2 linked regions of the Homo sapiens genome follow. The protein of the gene in region 2 purifies or fractionates together with the protein of the main gene of each other region. This does not show direct contact. Each region holds a gene or a part of one and is shown on either strand. Other genes may lie near its edges. The genes, in order: PAGE2B and CACNA2D3.

The links.
Region 1: the proteins of CACNA2D3 (region 2) and PAGE2B purify together in Homo sapiens (affinity purification with mass spectrometry; one large-scale study listed by BioGRID and IntAct). This does not show direct contact.

Annotation. Positions count from the first base shown.
Region 1 is NC_000023.11:55,073,247-55,077,177, reverse strand, and holds the start of PAGE2B (putative G antigen family E member 3), read right to left. Parts: upstream 2,149-3,931; 5' UTR 2,064-2,148; exon of another isoform or gene 1,922-2,063; intron 1,159-1,921; exon of another isoform or gene 1,145-1,158; coding exon of another isoform or gene 1,137-1,144; coding exon 1,053-1,136; intron 610-1,052; coding exon 501-609; intron 1-500.
Region 2 is NC_000003.12:55,072,718-55,075,301, reverse strand, and holds the end of CACNA2D3 (voltage-dependent calcium channel subunit alpha-2/delta-3 precursor), read right to left. Parts: intron 1,858-2,584; coding exon 1,745-1,857; intron 1,526-1,744; coding exon 1,443-1,525; intron 1,189-1,442; coding exon 1,096-1,188; 3' UTR 745-1,095; downstream 1-744. UniProt on the Homo sapiens protein: The alpha-2/delta subunit of voltage-dependent calcium channels regulates calcium current density and activation/inactivation kinetics of the calcium channel.

The sequences.
Region 1 (3,931 bases), on a different chromosome or scaffold from region 2:
GTTCTTATTCTTATCACATTAAATCAGCGATTTGTTTGAGTCAATCTGACTAGACTATGAGCTTTAGGCAAAAATTTGGCACTGACATCTCCAGCACTTAGTATATTACGTGGTATGAGGAAGCATCAATAAAGGTGTGTTAAAAAGTTTCTTAAAAAATACATGACGTGTCCACAGATGGCAGACTAGGAAGCTGCAAGCTGCCATTCTTCCACAGCAACAAAAAACAGAAAATGGCTGAACAAAGCATACAGGAGCTCTGGAAAAAGGTTTATGGCAACCATGAAAATACCCAATCAATAAAAAGCCTCCGTCAAAGTGGTAGGAAAGCTTAGTGGCTTTTTATGCGTCCTTGTCCCACCCCTCCACACAGCAGCAGTAGGAAATGTTTAAGATTCCTTCCTAATGCTTTCTGTCCTCCTGTTACTGGTATGTCATAAAATACAATGCATAAATAGACCTCCACCACCCATAAGCATTATTCTCCACTCTCCCTTCACCTTGAACGGCAGGTGCTCCTTCATTTTCGATCTCCCCACTAGGTGCAATACCCTGATTATCAGTTGGTGGTTCCTCTTCTTGACGTTTTTCCTCAGTGGGCTCCTGGACCTAAGGGTGTAAGTGTGTGTGTGAATAAAAAGTCAATAATATAAATACACAAATGCATATGTGCATCGAATCACACATCTAAAGACATTTTTCCAACATATATAAACACATATATATGTATATACATATATGTATATATACATACATACGTATATACATACATATATACACATACATATATACATACATACATACATATATACATATATACATATACACACACACACACATATATATATATAGAGAGAGAGAGAGAGAGAAATATCCATATCCATACAGGTAACACCAGAATATAATATTCCTGAACCAACGTTTCCTTCATGAGATGCCATCATCATTTTTTATCAGCATGGAACACCTGTATCAGTGCGTGTACACTAGCTCAAAAATATTTCTTAAAATAAATTGTGTTAATAGGAAACATCAAATGTTAAAGGACTCACAATCACAGATCCAACTGGCTGGGAAGACTCTTGGTCATTTCCTCTTTCTGAGGATTGGGATCTTGTTCTCACATGCTCACTCATATTTCCCACTGAAAATAGAATACTGTTATTTGGAAAAAGTGTATAAGAACTTAGCTATATATATGAACATTCCATGGCAAAATGGTGATTTGTATTTTTTTAATTTTGAAAATATTTTCAACGTAATTCACAGAGCATTGATAAGTACCCACGCTTTCCAATCAAACTAAGGACAGATTTGTTTGTATCATAGTCGAAGAGGCATAGAAATCCCCTTAACGCCATAGCAAAAGACAGAGGACATTTCTGCGTTTTGGTTTCACAATTAGACTCTCCATCATGAAGACATTTGGGGGAAAAAAGGGCAGAGAATTGAAACTGAAATGACTACTGCTTTTGTCCCACTCTGATTTGCTAGGCCCATTTCACCCCCACACCTCTCTCAAAATCAAGTCTTGTTGGAAAGCACAGCCTCGCCCATTCCTTCCATGGCGTCCATGGCGGAGGTGAGAAATTGTGAAACAGAGTGAACGTTATGCTCCTCACGGGACACCTCTGCCAGGCACTCTACAGACCTCGGGGCCACAGTCACCGGCCCACAGCGTTCCCAGTTCCCAGGCCCCTTCCTTACTGACCACATGGTCTCTTCCCGCGTCCCTACCGAGGAGTCTGGAAACTGTCCTCTCTCAGAGGGTTCCAGGAGTTTTCGAGACTCAGACACCTCTAACAGCACCCCCAGCACTCGCCCCATCTTCACGCGATCCCTCCCCTCTGTGGCCCACCTTCCTCCCTCGTCCCTCGTCCCAGCCCAGCCACGACGACAAGTCCCACGGTGGCATCCCGACCTGGGAGGGGCCGGACGACGACCGCGAGGCCCTTTTCCCTCGGAAGCCACGGACTGTGCCGCAGGACCTGTCCAAAGCCAGCTGGCTCCTCCACACATTCACCCACAACTAAATTCCCAGGAAGACCGCTCTGCGGACCTACCGGCTGAGTCTCGGTCAGTGACAAAGAATCAAGATGGCGGAAAGAATGAAGACACTCTCCTTGCAGAGCTGTGTGTGGACAGAAGGCGGGCAGCAAGGCGCATGCGCAACAACAGACACGTGTAGCAACAGACATGCGTAACAACAGACAAGTGCAGCAACAGGTCTGTGCAGCATGCACACTGACTGGGACATTCGCCTCGTGACTGATGTTTTCCTGCGTCTGTGGAGAACCTAAACCACCAGCGCTCCTGACAACGAAAATGAACTTGCAAAGCACTTTTCTTTTTCCCCCGCCCACCCTTTCTTTCACTTCCAGTGGCTTTGGAGAATATGAGCCCCAGGTTACTCTAATAATGTGTTTCAGAAAACTTCACCATCATAGAAATAAATCTTAAATATTTTAATATCTGTTTTATATACGCTTCCATAAATCATTTTCTTGCCTCCTTCACGAGTTTGCTGTCATGCTTGCAATTGTCTAACCCATTCCAATATAAGACATTCATAGTTTTTGGTTGCATTATTGTACGTTCAAAATCTTTGATCCATCTGGACAAAATTAAAGTGGTAGGAACTCAACATTATTTGTTGAATCCCTGTTGCACCCACTGTTTTGAAATGGCTCTTTTATCATCACCTACATCCCCACTCAATTTTGTATGTAACTCTCTTCTTTTAATTTTCTTCCATTGAGTTGTTTATACCTGTACCACTACTACACTATTTTAATTGCTGTAGCTTAAATTATATTTGAAATGTGAAATAATGCTTGCCCTCCCTCATTGATTTCTCCTTTTCTATCAATTCTGACACGTTGGTCTTTCAGATGAACTTCAGAATCATTTGATCAGGTGCTAAAATATTCCTGTTGAGATACTAGTTATTATTTTTATATTACATGTTAACTCTGGGACAATAGCCATCTTCCTATTTTAGAATCTCTCTATCAAAAAAAAGCCACTCCTCAATTCCTCAAGTCTTTTAACATATCCCACACAATGACTGTGTTATTTGCTTCATATTAGTTCTTCACATTCAAATTAAATTTATTCATGGGCACTTTTATTTTTCTATTCCATTGCTGACACGTGTTTGCTTCTACTCCACTATGTTTTTCACACAAGTCAAACAATCTGTTTGGAAACCATGTGATTCTATACCTAGAAAATCCCAGAATCTCTGCCCAAAAGCTCCTTGATCTTATAAACAACTTCAGGAAAGCTTCAAGATACAAAATTAATGTACAAAAACCAGGAGTGTTTCTGTACACCAACTACCTTCAAGCACAGAGCCAAATCAGAAACACAATCCCATTCACAATTGCCACAAAAAGAATAAAATACCTAGGAATACAGCTAACTAGGGAGGAGAACAATCTCCACTATGAGAACTACAAAACACTGCCCAAAGAAATCAGAGATGACACAAATGGAAAAACATTCCATGCTCGTGAACAGGAAGAAGCAATATTTTCAAAATGGCCAAACTGACCAGGGAAATTTATAGATTCAGTGATGTTGCTATTAAACTACCAATGACATTCTTCACGGAATTAGAAGAAAACTACTTTAAAATTCATATGGGATGGTTGCGGGGATCTGGCAAGATGGCGTAATAGGAAAAGCTTTGGTCTGCAACTCCCAGCGAGACCAACACAGAAGGCAAGCACTTTCTGCATTTCCAACTGAGGTACCCAGTTCATCTTATTGGGACTGGTTAGGCAGTGGGTGCAGCCCATGGAGGGTGAGCAAAAGCAGGGTGGGGCATCGCCTACCCGTGAAGTGTAAGGAGTTAGGAATCTCCATCCCCCAGCCAAGGGAAGCTGTCAGGTACTGTGCTATCTGGCCCAGATACTACGCTTCTCCC
Region 2 (2,584 bases):
TCATTTTAGTATAAAGCAGTACAGTGACATCAGTTTTTCTAAAATATCAAGAGGATAATGTGCCCCTTTTTAAAAGAGTTTAAGTAAGTAAGTAGGATTCTCTGGATAACTTTTAGATGTCGTCTGTCCTATAAAGTAAGGCATTCTCTACTCTGCCTAGGCATGGAAATTATTTCACTTTATTTAGTAACCATGATCCAGTGAAATCTGTTTTCTTTGGGTCAAGAGCCAGCGTTTAGAAATGCTTGCTTACATGTCTGGGTAGTTTCATCTCATCATACTTGAGATCTAATTTCATATCTTGTTTATGGGGAAAGCCAGAAGCCAAATTTGTAATCATTGTTCTTTTCCTCCTTCAAGTCTCCTCAGACCGAATTCCTAGGATTTATGACTTCTTTATTTCTATTCCCAAATAATTCACCACTTGAATATGATGAAAGCTTGTGTTTGCATCCAAATTATGATTTTCATTGAAGTTTAGTTCAACAAAATTCACGGTTCTATGTAATAAACTCTTCCCATGTAGATGATATTTTGATATACTTCTATAAATATTTTTATAACTGAGAGTGAGTGAAGCATCTAAAAACAGTTGTTAAATATGTGCCTAGAATCTGCTTTAGAACAAAGGCTCTGCCAACAGCCATCATTTCCTGGTTTCTGGAATGGGGACCTTTTCCCCCATGCATTGTTTTCAGTTGGTGTTCTTAGCAATAAAGTGATGATAAAATCCAAACACGGAGATTATGATTTTAATATACTTTATTTAAAAAGTACACAGTTTTAAATTGGTTTCAATAGGTTTCAAGCAGAAGGGACACTGCCTACCACTTGCGGTCCCATTTCTGATGAAGGGTGATTATCATGTGGCAAACTCACATTTGCATGACTGGCAAAGTAAAAAGATGATAGATAACTTTTTGTCAACATATCTTTAAGAGTTTATATCACGCACAGTTTAAAATCATGATGAGATGCTGATGGTTGGACTATATTCATGTCTCGTATGTTGCACCATATTTTGGTTCACAGTTTATCCATGATTTAGCATGCCAAGAGAACATCTCAGTCAGTAAGAGAACATCTCAGTCAGTGTCACCTTGAGAAGAGCATCAAAAGCAGAGGGAGCAGAAGGAGGACTGTCTGGGCTTGGAGACTCGGCGCACCCCCACACTCCCTTGCATTCTCCTATGGGGAAAGGCAGGGGTTGGTTAGACGGAAATAGACTCCAGGACACCTTCAACTTTCCCCAGACCTCTCTCCCCCTCTCTAACGTAAGAACGAAGTCTTCTGGGACCTAGATGATGGTGCAGATTCAGTTTACTGAATGAAAGGGATTATTTTCTCATGAGTGAACTTTTCAGCTGTAGTTCTTTGACCAGTGTGAGACTCTCGTGGTGATTCTGATGGGAAAAGGAAACAGGAACAGTTCTCAGACTTACCTCAGGATGGAAGCCATGACAAGATTCTGGGCGCCTTCTGATCTTCTGGGCCTTTAGACGTTCACACTTAAGGGATTCATTATGTTGACTGTAGTTAAGGCATGTTTCCAAGGATTGCTTTTTTCTACTCTGCATTTCAGAGGTCAAAATTTGGCAATGACAACTCTCTTAACTACTCTCTCTCTCCAACAGTGGAAAGGATGTAATTTTCCTTCTCTAATATTTCTCCCCCAGGTTTCCTTACCACTGATACCCCTTACTGGTTTCCGTGGTAGTGAGTGGACCTGCACACAAAAGGATATACCTGATTTCAATGGGTGCCATGGTGATGGGGGCCACAGATTCACAGAGGCAGCTGCTGTCCACCACCACCATGAACAGGTTGCTGCTTGGGATTTGCTGGATGACAAAGGACCTGTTGGAACAAGAGGTAGCGAGGCAGTCATTTACCATCCGTCAATTAAAGAGCCATGAGGAAGACTTCTCTCCTGGGTGGTAGCAACTACCATATTTTGTAAAGCAAATTTTGGAGACTATTTTACTACTAATGTTACCTTCTTTCTCCATGAGGCTCTTCACTTACAAATACCTAGCTTCACTAGGAAAACAACAATAGCTATGACGACATGCGGCTCATACAACTCACCTTGGAAAGACTGAAGTGCTGTATGTACAAAACACAAGAGTCAGAGTTGGCTGAATCACCTGTTCCCAAGGTTTAAGAGGTCAGACTTTCAAAGCCTAATTTCCTTCTCCCAGAGCCTAAACATTACCCCAAGTTACATTTGATGTTCCTCTAAGTGGCGTTTTCTCTCCTCCTTCCCTCAACGATAGACTGAAACTATGTCATACCAATGGCAAAAGAGATAGTGAACTTCTTAGAGCCTTCCTTATACTGCTTTGCACAACGTCTGCCCAGTATACAGGAACAGTGTTTTGAATGAGATTAATGCTAGTCATTTATGAGGTCCCACACTTCCCAGAGCCCAAGTTCTATAAGAAAGAGCCAAGGCTGTATATCTGCTCTGACCTTCTGATCCATCAGGATAGTTAGTCCAACTTAAACAAGCTTGGCAGTGCCTCCTTCTCACATTGCCCAACATGGTGAAGTGACAAAGAAAGACACTATAAAATAATCCTTT